Linked DNA regions of Homo sapiens. The protein of the gene in region 3 purifies or fractionates together with the protein of the main gene of each other region. This does not show direct contact. Each region holds a gene or a part of one and is shown on either strand. Other genes may lie near its edges.

Region 1 (4,135 bases), on a different chromosome or scaffold from region 3:
AAATGTAACTCTTCAAAGCTTTAATGATTCAGTGATTCATGATTCAATATCTGCAGGGTTAGGCCATTTATAGAGTAAATTTGCAAGTAAAAACTATTATTTTCTTATATTATTTTACTACCCTTACTTTCCATTGCCAACATAAACTCTTACTTTTTAAATTGTTTTCTGGACAGGCAATTTGACACAAGAAACCCAATATTGTTGCTTTACAAAATTAATAGGTGTGAGACTAGGAGGAGAGAATCCAAGGATAATTGAGTTGTGGAATGTGGAACTCAAATTTGGTCCCCTCATCCTCCATGTAGTCTGCTCCAGCACACCAGTCTTGCTACATGTGTTTTAAAGTGTTCCTGGGCAAAACTATATGCCATGAATCTCCAGGGCCACTCTGAAATCATCCAAGTTTCAGATGATTTTACTGTATGAGTAGTAAGGTTTTGTTCTCTAGCAGAGAAGCTGAGGGCAGTTCAGTAACTCACTGATAGTCATTCAGCTAGTCTCTTATGTCTTAATCTTTTTCTGGTATCTGGATGCTTCTGATCTCCTGATCACTGCTCTTTTAACAGCATAATAAATAATAAAAATGTATCATTTTTTACATCCCCATCAAAAAATTTTTCCTTTAGTTCTTTGATCTTAATAAGAAGGTATATATATATTTATAATTTATTTACTATTTTTATTCTTATAAATTATAAGCCTAAAAGATATCACGATTAAAAATTAATTCCACATATATTTGATATTCTAAAGAACTATTTTATATGAGTTCAGTTAATATTTTTTTAACAGATATTGAAATCAGAACAAATCCAGGTTGACAAACTTGCCCAAGATGTCATTGGTAGTGAGCTGCTAAAATGTTTTAATATATGTTTACTCAATCATGAATGTTTGCATTTTAAATATTTGCCTCTTTAGCAGGGACTAAATGTAGCAAATATTAAAGTGATAACTTTTAATTTTCTCTTTTTCATTTTATTCCCCTGAAACCTTCATCTTTCTGAAGCTTACTGCCCCAAGGCAGGGGAGAATGGCTATTGGTTCTCTTTTGTAGTCTCTCACATTTATCACATCAAGGGTTAATTCTGGAGGGATGAAGTTAAGTTTTCTCCTTATAAAGGGAGAAAACACCCCTTCTGCTTGTGACAACTAGGGCATGAGGCTTGTTGTTCTTTGTTCAGTGGCAGACACAACGTAAAAGGATGGTTTCAATGGCAGCATGGTCCAATGTAGTGTAGGAATGCATCCAGAACCACAAATTGCTTAATGTTTCTGACCCAATACACGCTACTCGCTTTATCCATTCAGTCTGCTCTCAGAAAGCAAAATAGCCTCCACATATTCCCATATGCTTTCTGGATGGAGAGCAGCTGGAAGTAGTAGAGCCCACTGCTGTAGATGAGGTAGAGGGATAGTGGGGGAGAAATGTACCCCTACCGGTTGCCAGGAAATTGTGCAAGGAAAAAGCCTGAGGAAAGCAGGAGACTTACTGGATTGAACTCCTTATTTCTGCTTTCTGCGCTTTGGCCTGAAGAAGGCTATTTGTGTTAGATGGATAAGGGTAACACACAGAGCAGAGGGACCCCTTATCCCTTTCCCGATTTGGGACTCTGAAGACTTCCCTGTATCAGTCTGGAATACAGGAGACACGATAGGCATCTAGAAGTGCAGTGTGGGTATGCAAGAGAGAGGTAGAAGTTTAACCTCTCCAGGACACCTCAGTGCCTATGTGCTATTATTGGACCCAAGAGTTCTCACCATTCTCTGGAAGAAATGTAAAGGCAGCTGGGTTAAGGCCAGGGACCTTAAATGGCCTGGACTGCAAAGGGGCAAGGTGACCCTGCATCACAGGCTGTGTTGAAACAATAGCCATAGTATTTGAGGCAGGATGCAAAGGTAGGAGTTCTATGGGATATGAAACAGCTGAAGTGAGACAGTCAGTTAGAGAGGACTGTTGGGTCCTGAACACACAAGAGAAACCAGATGGCTAAACTTCAACAGTGCATGCCAGCAAGTAAGGAGAAGTCAGACTGACAGTAGCCAAGAAGGACGGAGAACTTTGAGACCAAGGACTCTGACAGTTTTCTCTATTAGGAGTTAATGGAGACCACAGTTCTCTAGACACTATAGAGGAGAGGAACTGGGGAGAGGTGGAAAAGAAGTCTTACAATTATTGAGTTGTACCAACTTACAACTGGATAGGGTTAAAATTATTTTCCCTGCTTTGGTCCCCCACTGGGGGCTGTTGGTGAAGACTTGATACATGATTGAAAAATAAAGGAGCTATACTTTCTGTATATATATATATGGCCTACAATACATGTTAAGTTGCACTTCACTATATATTTCGAATATCTCTATATTCAGTGCCTTCCATCCAAAAGAACTGTTCTGTGAAGTTGGGATCTAGTGTTTTATTTAATCATGCTTCCTAGTGACTAATCGTATTTATGACTCTGATTGGCCCAGTGTAGAAAAAATGATTTCAAGAATAGAGGATAAATGAAAGACAAACAAGGGATTAACTGGAATAATTTCTTATATTTGGAAGGTATTGTAATGAGTGGAAAGGTGGCATTTACAAAGGAAGGCAAAGCGAAGACACAAGGGAGAGACTGAAACGCACTCTGGAGGAAGGGGTCTTGAGTGAGACTTACGGTTCTGTAGAGTTTGAGTCACTGGCAGAAAGCAGGATAAGAAGTAGCACAAGACATAAATGAAGAAGTCTGTCTTTCCGCATTGTGAGGGATAAATCTCAGGGTTGTGTCCAACTCTCTGCCCTCAGCCTCGCCCTGGAGACCAGCTGAGTTTACCAGGCTTTATGTGGCCACTATGTACAAACAAGCCCCACCCCAAGGCCTCTGAATAGAGTTCAGAATTGAGCACAGATTCCCTAAAAGGGTCATTACTCTCAGTGGTTGCCTCATTTTTCTCAAGGCTAAATTCTGATAGGTACTGAGGCATGTCTGGAAGATAAAATTTGTATTCCATTTAGAATGAGCTTTGACAGCAAACCTCCTGATAAGGAACCTTCAACCTACCTTTCTCCATCTCTTTCAAAATCCTTACAAGCAGGTGACAAAGGATGCTGACAAAGAATGTCAGGGACATGTTACCATGATAGTAGCTCATGCATTGCAGATTCATTTCTGGGACTGAGTGAGTTATAACTATAGACTTTAGGGTTTTTGGGTTTTCTTTTTTAGCAGTTGATTGAGTACATGGTCCTGGAAGAAAGTGATATAAAATAAGGATTTCAAGAGTAGAGGATCAATGAAAGATAAAAGAGATAAAAGATCAAAGAGATTTTAGAAAGGAGTTATCAAAGATCACACTTGTCTATTTCACAGCATTGACCTGATCAGATTCTTAGTTGATCCTATCTGTCCTTGTTACTGTCTGAGCACTCTAACGTTTGAGTCCCTTAAACCATGTCATTGACTTTATCTGAGATTTTTTTTTTGAGCCATACTGTGTGCTAAGTGCTATTCTGGTGATGAAAATACAATATTGAACAGGATATTCAGTATCCATGCTCTCATAGAACTTGTAGTACAATGATGATCACATATAAACCACCAGCAGATTTAATGCCATCCTTAGACTGCAGACATTGGTGTCTGTTTACATACTGTATTGCTTGAAACTTTTTAAATCAACTTTCTTTCTCTTTCTCCATATTTCAGCCTAATCATCCCTTCTTTGGAGAGCAAATTCCTGGCCACACTGCTGAAAGTGGATTCCTTCCTATTAGTTTTTATTTCACATCTTTGTTTCTTTTGTCACATTATCATAGAATGAAATAATTTCTTTTAAATTATGAAATGTTATATATATATATACTCACAAATATAGAGAGCAAGATAAAAGACACTCGTACCTTACATGCACCCAACTTTAATAAAATTAAACACTTGCCAAGTTTGTTTAAGGTCATTTCTTCTTAAGAAATGAAAGATGGCAATGGTAGTGCTCTTTTAAAATTTGTCTAGAAGCTTTTCCAGTTTTTACCAGATCCACCAACCCAAAAAAAGAAATAAATCAAGACAAATATGGTTGGAGTTTCCTTTGTAATTCTCTCCAATCTCATTTCCCTTCCAATGTTGTGGGATTAGGAAGTTGATATGTA
Region 2 (3,500 bases), on a different chromosome or scaffold from region 3:
CCTCCTCCTCCCCCTCTTCCTCCCCCTCTTCCCCTTCATGGTCAATCACTTGGGTGAGATCTGTGGTTTCCAGCTTATCTGAGATGGAGCAATCCCTCTTCCCAAGCTGTCTCCCAGGACAGCCCAGCATGTGAAACACACAGGGGCCCTGCCTTGGAAGGGCCCCTCAACCCTGCTGCTCACATAGCTCACTGCGCTGGCCCCAGGTTCCAGGTCAGGGCAGCCCCTGACACCCACCCTCTAGCTGGCTGGCCCTTCCCTCCAGCGCATCCCGACTCCCCAGGCTGTGTGGCCTTGGCATACTCTTGCCCTCTTGGGCTGGGGCTTCCCTTTGGCGAAGGCAGCGAGGAGGGGCTGAGATGATGCTCCTGCCTGTGCCTGTCCACCTCCCCACCCGGCTCTGGGAGGGTCTGGACCAAGCCAAGCCAGAGGGGTTTTGGGTCCAGGCAGCCAAGCGAGAGGCCCAGGGTTTATCGAGGGTCCCCAGCCTACTGTTGGCAGGGCCCGGAGAGCAGTGGGCTGCTCTCAGCCTGGGAAGGTGGGTCAGGAGGAGTGGGGTTCTTCACAGGAAGGCACACTGGCAGTTCCTGGGGAGCTGCCTGCCATCTTTCTGGGCCCAGGCAGTGTCATGGTGGCGGCCCTCCCTGCCTCGGTTGGTTCAATGGGCATACCCATTTTTCAGATGAGGATGAAAAGGTCCTAAGGGGCCAGGACTCAAGTCCTGCCCTGGTGCGAGGAAGAAACAGGGGAGATGGTCTGGTCCTGCCCTCTGCCCAACACCAGCCTTCATGTTTAGCACGTGGCACTGACTTAAGGACCCCAGAGTGAGGATGGAGGGTGTGGCTCTCAGCCAGGTGGCCTCAGCCAATGCCCACCTTAGAGACTCCGCTTTAGAGTGGGAATAACAGGGTCCCTCCTATCCGAGCTGTGTTGGGTAGTCTAACAGGGCTGGTATACAGTAGGTGCTTAAATAGCAGCTGTTTGGAGCAGACCCCTGGTCCCGCGTCAGGAAGAGGACCTGACTTATTCATGCCGGGTGACATGGTGCTCCTACTCCCGTGGGCCTCGGCCTCCCAGCTGTTCATGGGGCCACTGGGCAGGCTAAGGACTGAGGGATGGGAGGCCTGGTGAGGACCGAGGGGCGGGGCGGGAGGCCTGGTGATGACCGAGGGGCGGGGCGGGAGGCCTGGTGAGGACCGAGGGGAGGGGCGGGAGGCCTGGTGAGGACCGAGGGGTGGGGCGGGAGGCCTGGTGAGGACCGAGGGGCGGGAGGCCCTGGTGAGGACCCAGGGGCAGAAGGTCTGGTGAGGACCAAGGGGCAGGAGGCCCTGGTGAGGACCCAGGGATGGGGCGGGAGACCTGGTGAGGACCGAGGGGCGGGAGACCTGGTGAGGACCGAGGGGCGGGGCGGGAGGCCTGGTGAGGACCCAGGGGCGGGAGGCCTGGTGAGGACCCAGGGGTGGGGCGGGAGGCCCTGGTGAGGACCGACGGGTGCGAGGCCTGGTGAGGACCAGGATGCTTGCTGGGGAGTCCCCAGGTTCCCACCCCATCCCCACCGCAGGGGCTTTGCCCCGCCACCTGGGCTGCACCCTCAGGGCTCCGGGTGGTTGCCGGCCTTCAGCTCTGGAGAGGGAGGTGACCAGTCTGGGGACCGCTTCGGACAACAGCGCAACCTCACGTCCTGGCCTGGCCTTGCTGTGACCCTTTGGCCAGTGGCTGTATCTGGGGCCTCTGTTTCTCTCTTGAAGGAGGAGCTTGATGAGAACACCTCCTTCCCGGCTGTTGTGTGGGGTGCAGGCTGGGAAGGGCTGTCCTAGGGACACGTCTGTGAGGGACTTTGCTGCCTCTGGAGCTGCCGGTTGCATTATTGATATTTTGCCAAAAGCCCTGAGGGTTGGACGTTAAGCAGAGTCCCGCTGGCCCTCCCCTCCTTCAGGCGTTAGGTTTTGAAGGGAGGAGGGACTCTGCCTGAGTGTGCCACGCCCTGGACTGGGCTGGCCTCACACCCCAGCCCCGGCTGTCCTCTTCTTGCCCGGAGATCTGACCCACTGCTAAGATCATCGTTGGCACTGGCCAACCCATTTTACAGGAGAGAAACGGAGGCCCTGGAGGCGTGACATGTGTGAGGTTATGTGACGTGGGAGCTGGGGCCGTGGACCCTGGGGGTGGGCCCAGGTTTCTCTGGGCACTGCCCACTCAGCACCCCCAGGCCACCAGCCCTACTGCATCGGCCGGCGGCCTCCCCATCTCCTCCTCCCTCCCCAGCTGCCTTGTGTTTTGGGGGAAGGCAGTGGTCCTGCTGAGGCAGGAATGTGGTGGCTGATCTTGGGCAGAGCCGCGTGAGCAGATAAGCAGGCCCCTCCCCTCAGCCTCCTGTGCCTCCGTCTGCTTCCCCAGCTTCCCCTGGGCTGCTGGCTGTGGTCTTGGGAGCCTCAGCTTCCCCGGCTGTGAAATGGGTGTTGGGGGCTGGTGGGCAGCTTCCGAGAGCTCAGGCCCTGACTCCCCTGGTTCCCTCAGTTCCCCACCTGGAGCTGAAGTGAGCCCGGCGTGCTGAGGGCTCCTGTCTGCTAAGTGCCTTACGGGCATCCCCGTTCTGCCCTTCTCCAGACACCACTTAGCTTTGGGTTCTCCACCCATTTCGCACGTGAGAAAATCGGGGGTCAGAGAGGGTGGGTGGCTGCGCTAGAGTCTCACAGCACACAGTGGTGCTCTGGCTGTGGAGGCAGCGGCAGGGCAGGGTGACCCTGCTGTGCCTAGGACCTGCATGGCTGCCTGTGCCTAGGACCTCCTGGACTGTCAGGGGTGTGGCTTCCTGAGAAGGAGAGGGCAGCCACCGCGGGCTTCCGGGTTGTTCCGGGAGCTTCCCTGTGGGCCGCCATGGTTGGAATCCTGGAGTGGAGAATCCTAGACCCTCTGTCATTATAGGGAGGTTACCTTGCTTCTCCAAGCCTCAGTCTCCATCTCTGCAAAGTGGGGGTATCGTAAGGCACCAGGCTGGGCTCCAGGGTTGCCCGGTCTTCGTGCAAGTCACTCAGCCACCCTGAGCCTCAGTTTCCCCACTATAAAATGGAGCAGTGATGCTCACCTCACGGGGCTGTGAGGAGCGATGCCACCCAACACGGGAGGTGCAGCCCGGGCCAGGGCCCCCTGTGGTCTGTAACAAAATCCACACAAACAGGGCAGGGGCCCCCCTCCCCTCCCCAGGTTGCTGACGTCCCTCAGGTGTCTCTGTCACGGCTGGCCTTGCGTGGGCCCACTCCTTCCCACTTCCTTCTGGGCACCTGCACCCATCACCGCCTCCTGCCCCAACTTCCCTTTTTTCCATCAAGCTCCCACTTCCCAAGTCAGACCCAGGGAGCAGGAGCGGAGGAGGCCCCAGGGCCAGGTGGTCGTGGCTCCTTCCCGAAGTGATGCATGAGGAAAGACCTGCTGGGTAGTCCTCCGGGGACAGGGGACAGGGCCTCACGGTTGATGGCGCATCTATCCTGGACATCCTCAGC
Region 3 (3,136 bases):
CAGCATTAACATTAAAACAGAGTGCCTAAGGCCACGTGCGGTGGCTCATGCCTGTAATCCCAGCACTTTGGGAGGCCGAGGTGGGCGGATCACTTGAGGTCAGGAGTTCGAGACCAGCCTGGTCAACATAGTGAAACCCTGTCTCTACTAAAAATACAAAAATTACTTGGCGTGGTGGTGGATACCTGTAATCCCAGCTACTTGGGAGGCTGAGGCAGGAGAATCACTTGAACCCAGGAGGTAGAGGTTTCAGTGAGCCAAGATTGTGCCACTGCACTGCAGCCTGGGCAACAGAGCGAGACTCCATCTCAGAAAGCAAAAAACAAAAAAACAAAAAACCCAAATCCTCTCTTCTCTCAACATCCTCTCTACCACTTCTCTGGTCTACATAGAAAACTCTTTCGAAGAGCTAGTGTTCTGAGATACGACTTGGGTTTTTGTTTTTGCATCTGAAGAATCCTGAATTATCAAACACCAGAAAAGCACAAACACAAAAGAACTTGCTGAAAGGACTTTATTTGAGATGAGGAAACAAAGTTGATGGCAATGTATAGGACACACGACAGTTTCCTTCTAGGTCATAAAGTAAATTATGAATATATTTCTCTCTGTTCTCATCCCTCAGAGGCAGCAGAATCTGTGGTTAATACCCATGACAGTGCAGGTCCCATAGGAATATTCTGTTGAATAACAGGACCTTCTGCAATGGCAAGTGAAAGCCCTTGTTGAGCCTGGGGACAGAGAGAGAGAGCATCAGAAATTGAGCACCAGGGTCAGCAGCGGGCAGTAAAGAGAATCTTCAGGAAGTTGCATGCTTGCTGACATGTAATGCTGGCTGCATTACAGCCAATAGCATGATCACACCATCAATAGGAATAAATACGCAGAGCAGTGTTGGTCACACACAGGATTAGAGAGCCATTCTGATATGCTGTACTTATCTGCTCCTTCCCTGTCACACACACATCTGAATGCACCCATATGACTGTCTCCAGTTTGCAACGGTTCCTATAAAAGTCAGATTAAAAAACATTCCTTTAGCAGCTGGATGTGGTGGCTTACGCCTGTAATCCCAGCACTTTGGGAGGCCAAGGTGGGTTTATCACAAGGTCAGGAGTTCAAGACTAGCCTGGCCAAGATGGTGAAACCCCGTCTCTACTGAAAAAAAAAAAAATACAAAATTTAGCCAGGCTTGGTGTCTGGTGCCTGTAATCCTAGTGACTTGGGAGGCTGAGGGAGAGAATTGCGTGAACCCAGGAGGCAGAGGTTGCAGTGATCTGAGATAGTGCCACTGCACTCCAGCCTGGGTGACAGAGCGAGACTCCATCAAACAAAACAAAACAAAACAAAGCAAAACAAAACATTCCTTTAAAATTAGGCTCTCTTCCTTGAAGTAGAGACTCCTCAATACATTTCTACATGGCAAAAAATTAGAAAATTTCATAGACTTATCATAGAATTAAAAAATCTTTAGAGAAAAGTCATGCCTTGAATATCACTGATTCTTCCTTTTCAGTACAAACATAAAGTAATTGAGGCCTGGGGAGGTGATCACCTAAGAGAAAGAGCCAGCTGTTGGATCTAATTCTAGAAGTGCTTGGTTTTCCTCTCTACACTCCTAGCTCTGCAATGCTGGTGTCTCTTACCCAAAGCTCTAAGACTTGAGCTTGCATCCTCTGCAAAGGAGACGGCAAAGTCCTGGTCATTTGCCCCACGCTGCTCCTGGGCATCAGCCTCATAAGCTTTTGCCTGCAGTGGATCATCCTCAGCTTGGAGTGGCTCAGCCTTGGCCTGGAGGGCCACGAGGAGAACAGCAGTGAGGATGGTGAGGGTTCTCATGGCTAGGGTCGCTGGAGGAGAGAGAGCAGGAGCAGATGTGTGGGGAGTGAGGAGCCAGCCTGGATTTATAGGTCTGCTGGGAGAAGGCTCAGGGACAGATGTTGCGGTGAGACGGGGAGTGCATGTGATTGGGGAGCAGAAGAGCTACCCTTGCCCTCCATGTCCCTTTGATGCTCCTTTGTTCTCCAAGCTTCATTGTAGTGTGAGGCTGTTTATTGAGTGTCTGTTCTGGTCCCAGCTGATAGTGATGATAAGAACAGTGTTACATTGTCCTGTTTTCCATCTGCTGGAATATTTACTTGTTAATATTCAAAAAAGAAAAGAACAGTGCTTTCAATGAATAATTTCAGGAATCAAATGCCTCTTATTTTCTGAAGGTGGGGCTGGCCACTCTCTGGAGGTCTAGACCTTGAGGCCAGAGCTGGATCCCGCTAGAGTAGAGAGTTAATTCATTGCAGGATTCAGGGGGCATTTCTGCCCTCATGAAGGAGGCTTTGAGATTATGGGGTGAATAGGCTCTTGTGGGGCACAGTGTGGAGAAGATAATGACCTTATCAGCCTATAAGGGAAAAGAACTCAGTGGGATACTAGGTAAAGAGTTAGTAAAACTAAAGCCAAAAGATTTATTTCAAGAAACCCATGTGATCTGAATGTATCAACTAAAATATGTACTAGGTATTTCTCTCCACTTTGAGAAACATCGAAACAATTGACATGCCCACAATCCCCCTCTGAAATTTTATTTTATTTTTAATTTTAGAAAATGTTGAATTGCCCACAAGGACCATTCAAAGGGTAAAAGGAGTAATGAGCCTCCATCCTTGCCCCAGCCCTGCAGCTCTGCTCCAGGAAATCTCCACTTAAAAATTAAACATTGGTTTGTGCTTTGTTTTTTCTCCCTAATGCTGTAATTTGAATACTTTGTAGCTCAAAACATATAGAACTCTACCATTATTTTCATAGTCTCTTGTTTCTGGTCTTCTATTCAGGTATTTTATCCATTTTGAGTTAAGTTTTGTATATGCCAAAAGAGAAGGGTCCAGTTTTATTGTTTTGCATATGGAAATAGTATTCCCACCACCATTTATTGAAGAGACTCTCCTGTCCCTATTGTGTCTTCTTCATGCCATTGTCAAAAGTTACTTGACCATATGTGTTTCGATGTGTTTCTGGACTCTCAATTTTATTTCACTGGTATGTGTCTGGTTTTATGCCAATACCATATTGTTTTGATTACCGTAGCTTTGTAATATAATTTAAAACCAGGAATTGTGATGTCTTCAACTTTGTTTTTTTT
Region 4 (2,599 bases), on a different chromosome or scaffold from region 3:
TTGTTTTCTTTCTTTCTTTTTTTTTTTTTTTGAGACAGAGTTTCACTCTTGTTGCCCAGGCTGGAGTGCAATGGTGTGATCTTAGCTCACCTCAACCTCCGCCTCCCAGGTTCAAGTGATTCTTCTGCCTCAGCCTCCCTAGTAGCTGGGATTACAGGCATGTACCACCACGCCCAGCTGATTTTGTATTTTTAGTAGAGATGGGGTTTCTCCGTGTTGGTCAGGCTGGTCTCGAACTCTCGACCTCAGGTGATCCGTCCGCCTCGGCCTCCCAAAGTGCTGGGATTACAGGCATGAGCCACCGCGCCCAGCCATTGTTTTGTTTTCTTTATGATAAATTCCTAGAACTATGACACGGTGAAAGTGTAGACTTACCAGTCTGGGTTAAATGTTTTAATTTCGGATAAGTGAGGCTTCCATATCTTTGGTTGTTTATATCTTTTTTTTTTCCTTTCTCTTTTTTTAGTTATTTTTATTTTTTTGAGACAGAGTCTCACTCCGTTGCCCAGGCTAGAGTGCAGTGGCATGACCTTTGCTCTTTGCAACCTCTGCCTCCTGGGCTCAAGCACGATCCTCCTGCCTCAGCCTCCCAAATTGCTGGGATTACAGGTGTGTGCTACCACGCCCAGCTAATTTTTGTATTTTTTTGCAGAGACGGGGTTTCGTAATGGTGGCCATGCTGGTCTCAAACTTCTGGGCTCAAGAGATCCGCCCACCTCTGCCTCCTAGAGTGCTGGGATTACAGGCGTGAGCTGTCACACCTGGCCTTATATTTATTCTTATGTAGGTTCATCCCGTTGCTTGCTTTCTGGTGTATCTTCTCAACTGGTCAGTCCCAGGATCTGAGAGACGGCTGAGTTTGCATCCTCCGCTCTTTGTTTTGAAGCAGCCCTCTCGGAACCTGGTCACTATAGCCTGTGGGGGGTACTCTCAGGAGCCCCCCCCCCCCTGGGCACAACTGGAGGCCCTGAAAGGACACTGCGGGTGCCCTGTCTTGCTGGCCTGGCCCCCTGGGGGTCTCCTGTAGCTGGAGCAGAAAGAAGAGCTCTAGGAAGGGATTGTGTGGCTTCTAGAGGACCCAGGCCACTGGCCTATGCCAGGCACCCGGAGGAAGCGGAAAAGCAGCCCTTCTAAATGCATTCCGTCTGCTTCAGTGGCACAGCTGTCCCAAGCCCAAATATGGGAGCTTTCCTCCACTTTCTCCCCAAGGAGTCCCTCAGGCTGGAGGGAAAGTCGCTGCTTGGGAAGCAGGAATCCCAGCACCTTGTAGCGAGAGTGTAGGGCAGGATCCAGCAGATATGCTGAGGGCGGCCTTAGGCAGTCATTCAAGGCCTTAGCTTCCCAGTGGTGAAAGAGGTTGGGTTGCAGGCCTCCTGAGCTCCTTCCATTCTGTCGTCCATGTTCTCCCCTTGTCCGGCCCTGCGGGACACCCAGCCCGTCCGGGATTTCCTTGCTGTGGGGCTGCCGGAGGCTACATGAAGGGCAGTGGTCAGGGCCCACTAAGGGGCTCCCTGAGCTGGTGCCAGCCGCCGGCTTCTCTGATAGCAGCATTGCTCGTTTCCTCGTGTGTCCCTCTCTTGTGGAATAAGTGCTAGTGTCCAGCCAGGTTTCTAACTTCCCGCTGAGCTCCTGGGATGTGGTGGCTGGAATTCTGCAGTGTACAAAACAGCACCTAGAATTTGGCGGGGATAGGAACGGGTTCTTAGGAAGCTTCCATCAGCCCCCAGACGGCCTGGCATGGCTTACCCAGGAAGCAGGAGTTCCCAGCAGCCAAGTGGGTAACTGGGTCTGCCTGCTCCAACCTCAAGGGAGCTGTCTGCAGGCCCAGCTTCTACTCCTTTCCTGCCACACGCTCATGTGCTGCCCCTTCCCTTCCTGAGGGGACTCCAGCTCCCCTCCCTGGATGCTCATCCCCCAACCGCAACTCAAGGTCCTGTGTTGTCCCGCTCCCCCCGCCACACCCCTTTCCCTGTCCTGGGTCAGGCTGGGACAGACATGCTTCACCGTGCATAACTGGGGCAGGCGGCCTTCCCTGCGGTCTTGGCAGTCAGCATACTTGCCTTCCAGATGACTGGCCCACAGGGAGGAGGGAACGTGCCATTTTCTTGACCAGTCTCTGGGAACCCAGCTTTGGGGCTACTGCTCTGTGGGGCCTTCTGGCAAGTGCCAGGGTTTAGGCAACTTCCAGGCACTGGTGAGGATGATCTCAGATAGCTGCCGCCCACCTGACGTTATAGACCTCTGGACTTAGAGGCTTGTGATGGAGGGCATGGCACAGCAGGGGTGGGAAGGTCAAAACGGGAGCCTCAGCTGGGTCTCATCCATGGCTTCTCAGAAGAATCAGGACTGATGTTGGAGAGTCCTACCCCTTGGGGTCTACACGGACTTTGGGTTTTGTTTTGTTTTTTGTTTTTGTTTTTGTTGGAGACGGAGTTTTGTTCTTGTTGCCCAGGCGGGAGTGCAATGGCGCGATCTCAACTCACTGCAACCTCCGCCTCCCGGGTTCGAGCGATTCTCCTTGCCTCAGCCTCCCGAGTAGCTGGGATTACAGGCATGCACCACTACGCCCGGCTAATTTGTATTTTTAGTAGAGATGGGG

The links. The genes of interacting proteins can lie anywhere in the genome.
Region 1: the proteins of DEFA6 (region 3) and PZP purify together in Homo sapiens (affinity purification with mass spectrometry; 2 studies listed by BioGRID and IntAct, with this or other methods). This does not show direct contact.
Region 2: the proteins of DEFA6 (region 3) and ZFPM1 purify together in Homo sapiens (affinity purification with mass spectrometry; 2 studies listed by BioGRID and IntAct, with this or other methods). This does not show direct contact.
Region 4: the proteins of DEFA6 (region 3) and RBPMS2 purify together in Homo sapiens (affinity purification with mass spectrometry; 2 studies listed by BioGRID and IntAct, with this or other methods). This does not show direct contact.

Annotation. Positions count from the first base shown.
Region 1 is NC_000012.12:9,205,596-9,209,730, forward strand, and holds the start of PZP (pregnancy zone protein precursor), read right to left. Parts: upstream 2,801-4,135; 5' UTR 2,747-2,800; coding exon 2,664-2,746; intron 1-2,663. UniProt on the Homo sapiens protein: Is able to inhibit all four classes of proteinases by a unique 'trapping' mechanism. This protein has a peptide stretch, called the 'bait region' which contains specific cleavage sites for different proteinases.
Region 2 is NC_000016.10:88,459,780-88,463,279, forward strand, and holds part of ZFPM1 (zinc finger protein ZFPM1), read left to right. Parts: intron 1-3,500. UniProt on the Homo sapiens protein: Transcription regulator that plays an essential role in erythroid and megakaryocytic cell differentiation. Essential cofactor that acts via the formation of a heterodimer with transcription factors of the GATA family GATA1, GATA2 and GATA3.
Region 3 is NC_000008.11:6,924,197-6,927,332, forward strand, and holds DEFA6 (defensin-6 preproprotein), read right to left. Parts: upstream 1,881-3,136; 5' UTR 1,840-1,880; coding exon 1,647-1,839; intron 732-1,646; coding exon 622-731; 3' UTR 501-621; downstream 1-500. UniProt on the Homo sapiens protein: Host-defense peptide that contributes to intestinal innate immunity and mediates homeostasis at mucosal surfaces by forming higher-order oligomers that capture bacteria and prevent microbial invasion of the epithelium.
Region 4 is NC_000015.10:64,741,991-64,744,589, reverse strand, and holds part of RBPMS2 (RNA-binding protein with multiple splicing 2), read left to right. Parts: intron 1-2,599.